2 linked regions of the Homo sapiens genome follow. The protein of the gene in region 2 purifies or fractionates together with the protein of the main gene of each other region. This does not show direct contact. Each region holds a gene or a part of one and is shown on either strand. Other genes may lie near its edges. The genes, in order: BLVRA and PHF13.

Region 1 (3,815 bases), on a different chromosome or scaffold from region 2:
GCCTTTCAATGAGCTCAGTCAGCTAGAGGAAGACACACACACACACACACACACACACACGTACATACCACTACCACAAGACTACCAGGAGAAATGTGGTGCTTGGAAGTAGGAGATGGAGACTCAGGGTGGGAAAGGAATACACCAGAAAAGCTTCCTGGGGAGGAGGTAGAACTTAGCAGGTAGGTCAGGAAGGGAAGGGTATGTGAAGAGGGAAACAGTGTGAGTACTGGCAGGGCTGTCATGCAGGGGTGTGACCTGGCCATCCTCCCATACAACCTGGGTAGTGTAGGTGTTCCCACTGAGCTGACCCTGGAAGCCAACTGGCAGAGGACTGGGGCTTAAGGGAAAAGGAAAGGTCCCATTTCAGCCTTGCGCCCAAGTGCTGTGTGTGGTCCCAGCTCCAGATAGGGGTGCGATGGGGGTTACGGTGCTGCCTGATCTTAACTTTGCTCTCCCATTTGTGTGCAGCTCCCTTGGAATCTTATGGGGAGGAGAAGGCTGGCCCAAGGGCAGATTCTAGCACTTCTGGGTCTCCCTGGTGCTTCCAAGCCCATTTTAAATCCTTAAAAGTGGGGCCATGTTTTGAGACAGGCCGGAAGAGGATGGCCCCATGAATGAAAACATGAAAAAATTTCTACATAGACTATCACAATTGTTACTTATGCTTTGTGTAAATATTTATCTGATGTCTCTAAAGCACTAGAAAAAGAGTTGCCTAACTTGCTCACTACCATGTCTTCAGGCCCAGCCCAGTGCCTGCACCTAGTCCAAAATTAATATGGATAAATGATGTTACACAGGATTAGTCTGGTGCCTGTATCTAGTTCACAATTAATATTGACAAATGATGTTATACAGGATTAGTCTGGTGAGTGGTGCGTGTGTGTGTGTGTGTGTACAGGGGTGAGTGGAAAATTTGAGCATGGGGGAAGAAGAAACAAGGTGATAAGTTTGATTTTGACTGGAGATAAATGAATCCTTAAAGAAAAGGGGGAGGCTGGGTGCACTGGCTCACGCCTATAATCTCAGCACTTTGGGAGGCCGAGGCAGGAGGATCACTTGACCCCAGGAGTTTGAGACCAGTCTAGGCAACATAGGGAGACCCTGTCTCTACAAAAAAAAAAAAAAAATTATCCAGGCGTGGTGGTGTGTGTGTCTGTAGTCCCAGCTACTCAGAAGGCTGAGGCAGGAGGACCACTTGAGCTGTGAGGCGGGAGGATCACTTGAGCCCAGACGGTCAAGGCTGCAGTGCGCTGTGATTGCACCATTGCGCTGCAGCTTGGGTGACAGAGTGAGACTCTGTCTCAAAAAAAATAATAATAATAATAAAAGTGAGGCTCAAAATTACCAATGGCAAAAGAACACATGGTGTTTAAAAGATGGGCTTTGGAAACAGACTTCTGCTCAACTTCAGTTCTTAGACTTTCCAGCTGTGTGACCTCAGGCAGATTACTTAACCTTTCTGTGGTTCAGCCTCCTTATCTGTAAACTGGGGGGTTAATAACACTACGCAGAAGGAAATATCACATGTAGAGCCCAGGACCACCTAGGATGGCTGTCATGATGACTATGTCAGGATTCCCCGGTGCACACCGAAAGCCTTTCAGGCCAAAGCCCCATGCATGTGTTTTCTGTGCCCCTTCTCTAACTGTCAGCCTTGAGCTCACCCTCCTGCCTCTGTCTTCCAGTCTCCCAGGCCAACCTACTGTGCATCCCAGCTGCAGGCCCAGCAAGCTTCAGTTCCCAGACCCATCCCAACCTGAGATCTTATGGGGCTGACCCTAAGCACAGTTCTCAGTTGGGAGATGGCTCTCCCTGCCCTGGGTCTGGAAAATCTCCATGTCCTGCAGCTAATCCGCCTCACTGGGCTTTCCATGAATTATGAAGCACAAAGACATTGTGAGCCACCTCGACACGAAGCCAATCAGGTTCAGGAACGCTGAGGAAGGGTGTGGATTCCGCAAGTCCCTCATCCGCACGGAGCCGGCTCGGCCAACACCAACCACCACCACGCCAAACTTCCTCTCGGGCTGAAACACAAGGGACCAAGGTGGAGTCTGAAAACACTGTAGGCATCGAGCAGAAAACTACAAAACAAAGGAGCTGGCAGGGTCCCGACGAGCAAGATGGAAGCCAGCCCAAAACACACAGGAAGCCACAGCATCAGGATGGGATGAGACAGTCCCCGAAATGGGGGCTTGGAGAGAAGTCAGTCCCGCCAAAACCTGTTCTTGAAGGTGCTCCACCATGTCTTTAGGTTGAAAACCTTCCGAGTACCCACAGAAAGTGTTCCCCCAATTTGGCTCTCCACTTCTACTGCCCCATCTCCAATAATGAGGGAGCTTTCCCCATTAACCCAGACCCAGCCCATGGCCTGGTACTTCTGCCCTCCCTGGGTCCCTCCTCCAGTGGACACATGAATCTGATACTACTGGGAGTCATTCAGAGGGCACAGCTTCTTCATCAGATGCTGGCAGAGGAGGCAAATGGGCAAACCATGATTGGTCACCTTACTCAGCGTGGGATCCAGAGGCTTTGACTCTTCACTACAGCCTTCTGAGTTCCACATTTAAGATACTGCAGTATCTTAAATATTATTTAAGTGCACTGCTGGAGGCTGTATGTGAACAGTATTACAGTGAAAAATCAAACTGACTTTTAAGTTATACAGCAACTCAGTATAATAAAAACTGATAAAATTTATCTCCATGCACTGGGCACGGTGGCTCACGCCTGTAATCCCAGCACTTTGGGAGGCCGAGGCAGGTGGATCACTTGAGGTCAGGAGTTCCAGACCAGCCTGGCCAACATGGAGAAACCTCGTCTCTACTAAAAATACAAAAATTAGCTGGGCCTGTTGGCAGGCGCCTGTAATCCCAGCTACTTAGGAGGCCGAGGCAGGAGAATTGCTTGAACCTGGGAGGCGGAGATTGCAGTGACCCAAGATAGCGCCACTGCACTCCAGCCTGGGTGACAGAGTGAGACTCTATCTCAAAAAAAAAAAAATTATCTCCATGCATCCCTTAAACTCACTTCTTGGATGCCTCTGAGCATAGAAACATGAATGTCATCTCAGATTTGCCCCTTTTCTTCACCTCTGTACCCAGTTGTCACCACTTCCCACTGACTCTGCCCCTCTTCCTGTGCCCACTGCTCTTGTCTTCTCCTTCCAGGATTTCTTCCAAATGTTTGGGGATTTGCCAAATGTTTTTCTATTATTGATTTCTCATTTAATCCCACTGTGGTCAGAGAACATTCTTTAAATGATTTGAATCCTTTTAGATTTATTGAGATATTTTATGATACGGGATGTGGTCTACCTTGGTTAATGTTCTGGGCACACTTGAAAAGAATGTGTATTCTGCTATTGTTGGGTGGAGTGTTCTATAAGTCTGTTAGATCAAGTTGGTTGATTGTGTTGTTCAGGTCTTCGTATCCTTCCTGATTTTCTGTCTCCTTGCTCTAGCAATTATTGAGGGTAGAGAAATCTCTGAATATAATTGTATATAACTGTGTATTTCTCCTTTCAGTTCTATCAGTTTTGACCCACATATTTCAAAACTCTGTTATTAGATACATACAAGTTTAGGATGGTTATGTCCTTTTTTTTAATTGACCCCTTTATCTTTCTAAAATGACCATTTTTATTCCTGGTAATATTTTTTGCCCTATAATTTATTTTGTCTGATATTAACAATCCATTCCCAATTTCTGTTGATCAGTGTTGCATAATACATTTTTTCCCCAACCTTTCACATTTAATCTATATGTGTTTTCATAGCTATAGTTAGTTTCTTATAGGCAGCATATAG
Region 2 (3,815 bases):
GAACACCACCTGCTTTCCCTGCCGGACGATAGTCCGTTTGCCTTCAGTTTTTATTTCTTTGACCTGATCAGGTGACACAGTGGCACAAGATCCACTCGAGGGAGTATCGGAGTCCCAGCCCGAGCAGGGGTCGCTGGGAGCCTGGGGGATATCCTGCAAGGTGGGACTCGTGGGGGTCTCCACGTAGGGGTCAGCGGCTTCCAGCTTCAGCAAGCCCCCCCTGTACCCCTCTTTCCCAGGCGCATCACTGTCCCTGCGCTTCCTCTTCTTCTTCTTCTTCAGCTTGTCCGTTTTCTTTCTGTCCAGCAGGAAGTTACTGGGCTTGGCTCGCTGCAAGAGAGTAGGCTGCAGGTGGCTAAAGCAGCGGTCAGAGACTGGCAAGGGCACTGAGGACGCGATGTCTGAGAAACCCGCGTCCCAGCCGTCGCTGTCAATGGTACCAGCAGTGCTGTTAGCAGGGCTGGGGCTGCTCCTTAAAGGGAGTTCCTAAAAAGACAAAGGTGGCAGATTCCAGTTACTGGTGACAAGATCCAGCCCAGAGCAGAGCATCCCCAGCCACCCAGCCATGTCAGACCTCCAGAGACATCTGCACAACTTTGAGCTTCTCTGCCCATCAGCATCACACTTGAAGCAACAGTAACATGAGTTCTGGCTGGGCGTGGTGGCTCACACCTGTAATCCCAGCACTCTGGGACGCCAAGGCAGGCGGATCACCTGAGACCAGGAGTTCAAGACCAACCTGGCCAACATGGTGAAACCCCATCTCTACTAAAAATACAAAAATTAGCTGGGCGTGGTGGTGGTGCCTGTAGTCCCAGCTACTTGGGAGGCTGAGGCAGGAGAATCGCTTGAACCCGGGAGGCAAATGTTGCAGTGAGCCACTGCACTCCAGCCTTGGTAACGGGAGGGAGATTCTGTGTCTCAAAAAAAAAAAAACCCAGTGCCATCAGTGCCATGAGTTTAATGTGATGCCACGAAGAGAGAAACTCCCTGCTGAACCCTCAGCCCCATCTTAGAGACAGAAAATTCATCAGTGTGCAACAGGTGTCTGTGGGAAGGAGTGCTGTGGACACCCACTCCTATCTGCTCATTGTTCCCTGATTGTAAAACCTCTCCTTCCATTTGCCCTCCCAAGAGATATATTGTTTTAAGTGAATTTAAATTAGTTTTGAGAATTTCCTGACACTCTTAAAAAACTAGACATTCCAAAATATTGCAGAATCCAAGTAGGTAATTACTGCCCCAAAGCAGTGAAGTAAACTCTATGGTTCATTCAGATCACAAGCATATCATTTGCAAACAGTGGCAACGTCCTCCTTGTCTTGCTAGAAAACAGGCATTAGGCTGGGTGCGGGGGCTCACACCTGTAATCCCAGCACTTTGGGAGGCTGAGGCGGGTAGATCACCTGAGCTCAGGAGTTCGACACCAGCCTGGCCAACATGGTGAAACCCCCTCTCTACCAAAAATACAAAAAAATTAGCTGTGCATGATGGCTGACACCTGTAATCCCAGCTACTTGGGAGGCTGAAGCAGGGAGAATTGCTTGAACCCAGGAGGCAGAAGTTGCAGTGAGCTGAGATCGCACCACCACACTCCAGCCTGAGCCACAGAGCAAGACTCCGTCTCAAAAAAAGAAAAAAAGAAAGAAAAGAAAGCAGGCATTAGCCACCTATGTAGCAGATGGAAATAAACCAATGCTGGCAGTTTGCCTGCTAGAAATATACTGAATGCAGCTGGGCACAGTGGCTCGTGCCTGTAAACCCAGCACTCTGGGAGACCAAGGCAGGAGCATCACTACCTCGAGACCAGCCTCAGCAACACAGTGAGACCTTGTCTCTACAAAAAATAAAATTACGGCCAAACGCAGTGGCTCACGCCTGTAATCCTAGCACTTTGGGAAGCCAAGGCAGGTGGGTCACTTGAGGCCAGGAGTTTGACACCAACCTGGGCAACATGGCGAAACCTTGTATCTACTAAAAATACAAAAATTAGGTGGGTGTGGTGGTGGGCCTGTAGTCCCAGCTACTTGGAAGGCTGAGGTGGGAGGATCACTTCAGCACAGGAGAAAGAGGCTGCAGTGAGCCAAGACTGTGCCACTGCACTCCAGCCTGGGCAACAGAGCAAGACCTGTCGCAAAAAAAAAAAAGCTGGATTGTTCAATTTTGAGCTTAATCGAATACGAAAGAGGCCTGAAGTCTGAGCACCACAGCCGCTCTCCTCCAGTCCTGCCCTGTTCTCAGCAAGTGAAAAAACCTCCTTCATCTACATCAAGTTGCAGCCATGAGTCCCTGAAGACAATCATACGCATTTCGGGCAGCCAGGGAGCTGAGACAGAGGCAGCGTGTGCACTGAGTCCAGCCATCTGGTTGAACCCCAAGCTCCACCACTAATCAGTGGGTGACCTAAGACAAAGTTTTCCCTCTCTATGCCTTAGTTTCCTCAGCTTATAAACTGGAGATAAAAAATAGCACCTACCTCATAGCATTACATAGGCCAAGAATAGTGTCCAGCTATGGTCAACAGTCAGTAACTACAGACCCTTATTAAAAGCAAGCAGACAGCCAGGTGCAGTGGCTCAACGCTTGTAATCCCAGCACTTTTGGGAGGCCGAGGCGGGTGGATCATGAGGTCAGGAGTTCGAGACCAGCCTCGACAACACGGTGAAACCCCGTCTCTAGTAAAAATACAAAAAACTAGCTGGGTGTGGTGGCGCGCCCAGCTACTCATGAGGCTGAGACAGGAGAATCGCTTGAACCCAGGAGGCAGAGGTTGCAGTGAGCCACAATTGCACCACGGCACTCCAGCCTGGGCGACAGAGCCAGACTCCATTTCAAACAAACAAACAAAAAGAGCAAGCAAATATCACATATTTTATTTGTAAATAAACTGAAAGTTTACTAAATCGGCTGGGCGGTAGCTCACGCCTGTAATCCCAGCACTCTGGGAGGCCGAGGCAGGTGAATCACCTGAGGTCAGGAGTTCGAGACCAGTCTGGCCAACAAGGTAAAACCCTGTCTCTACCAAAAATACAAAAAAGAATTAGCGTGGTGGCGCACGCCTGTCATCCCAACTACTGAGGAGGTTGAGGCAGGAGAATCCCTTGAACCCGGGGGTGGAGTTTTACGACACTGCACTCCAGCCTGGGCGACAGAGCAAGTTTCCATTCCAAAAAAAAAGAAAGTTTACTAAATCATTTTCTAGACAAGCCTGCATTTTCTACCAGAGTTTTTACCAGAGTTTTAGAACCATTTCCCCAGCTAATTCAAACTCTCAAGAAACAGATTTCTGCCAGACTAGTGACTGGGGTCACCACAAGCAGCCCCTTCCAAACCTACTGACCCTCTGACCAGTCAGAAGCCCACGAACTTGCGGTGGAGGCACTGGGTTTGACTACTCATCAAGAAAGGTCTCAGAAACTCAGAAGATTACCTCCTTCGGATAAGGGATGTAGCCAGCATAGGCCAAGACAAAGGTGCAGAATTTGTTGAAGTCTTCCACGGTCCTGCGCCTCTTGCAACTGGGGGAGTATTCCTATTAAGGGGAGAGAAAAGGGAATGTGTTTGAAGGAGAGGCTTCCAGGCGGAATCACAGAAACAAAAGGAAGTAAGCTGGAACTTTTGTAGTCAATCACTCAAAAAATACCGTTAGATTTACACAGTCCACAAACAAGATACGGTAAGTTCAGGTCAAGAAATAACACTATTTTCAGAGAGCAGAAAGAGGAGTATTAAGACTTTATGCCAAGAATGCTGGGAAATCAGCTGGGAGATAAAAACTTCTACAAAAGTCTATTTCTTAGTGCTCATGTGGCATT

What was found.
Region 1: the proteins of PHF13 (region 2) and BLVRA purify together in Homo sapiens (affinity purification with mass spectrometry; one large-scale study listed by BioGRID and IntAct). This does not show direct contact.

The regions. Positions count from the first base shown.
Region 1 is NC_000007.14:43,786,122-43,789,936, reverse strand, and holds part of BLVRA (biliverdin reductase A), read right to left. Parts: intron 2,034-3,815; coding exon 1,912-2,033; intron 1-1,911. UniProt on the Homo sapiens protein: Reduces the gamma-methene bridge of the open tetrapyrrole, biliverdin IXalpha, to bilirubin with the concomitant oxidation of a NADH or NADPH cofactor. Does not reduce bilirubin IXbeta.
Region 2 is NC_000001.11:6,616,474-6,620,288, reverse strand, and holds part of PHF13 (PHD finger protein 13), read right to left. Parts: intron 3,533-3,815; coding exon 3,431-3,532; intron 487-3,430; coding exon 1-486. UniProt on the Homo sapiens protein: Modulates chromatin structure and DNA damage response by regulating key determinants of chromatin compaction and DNA damage response.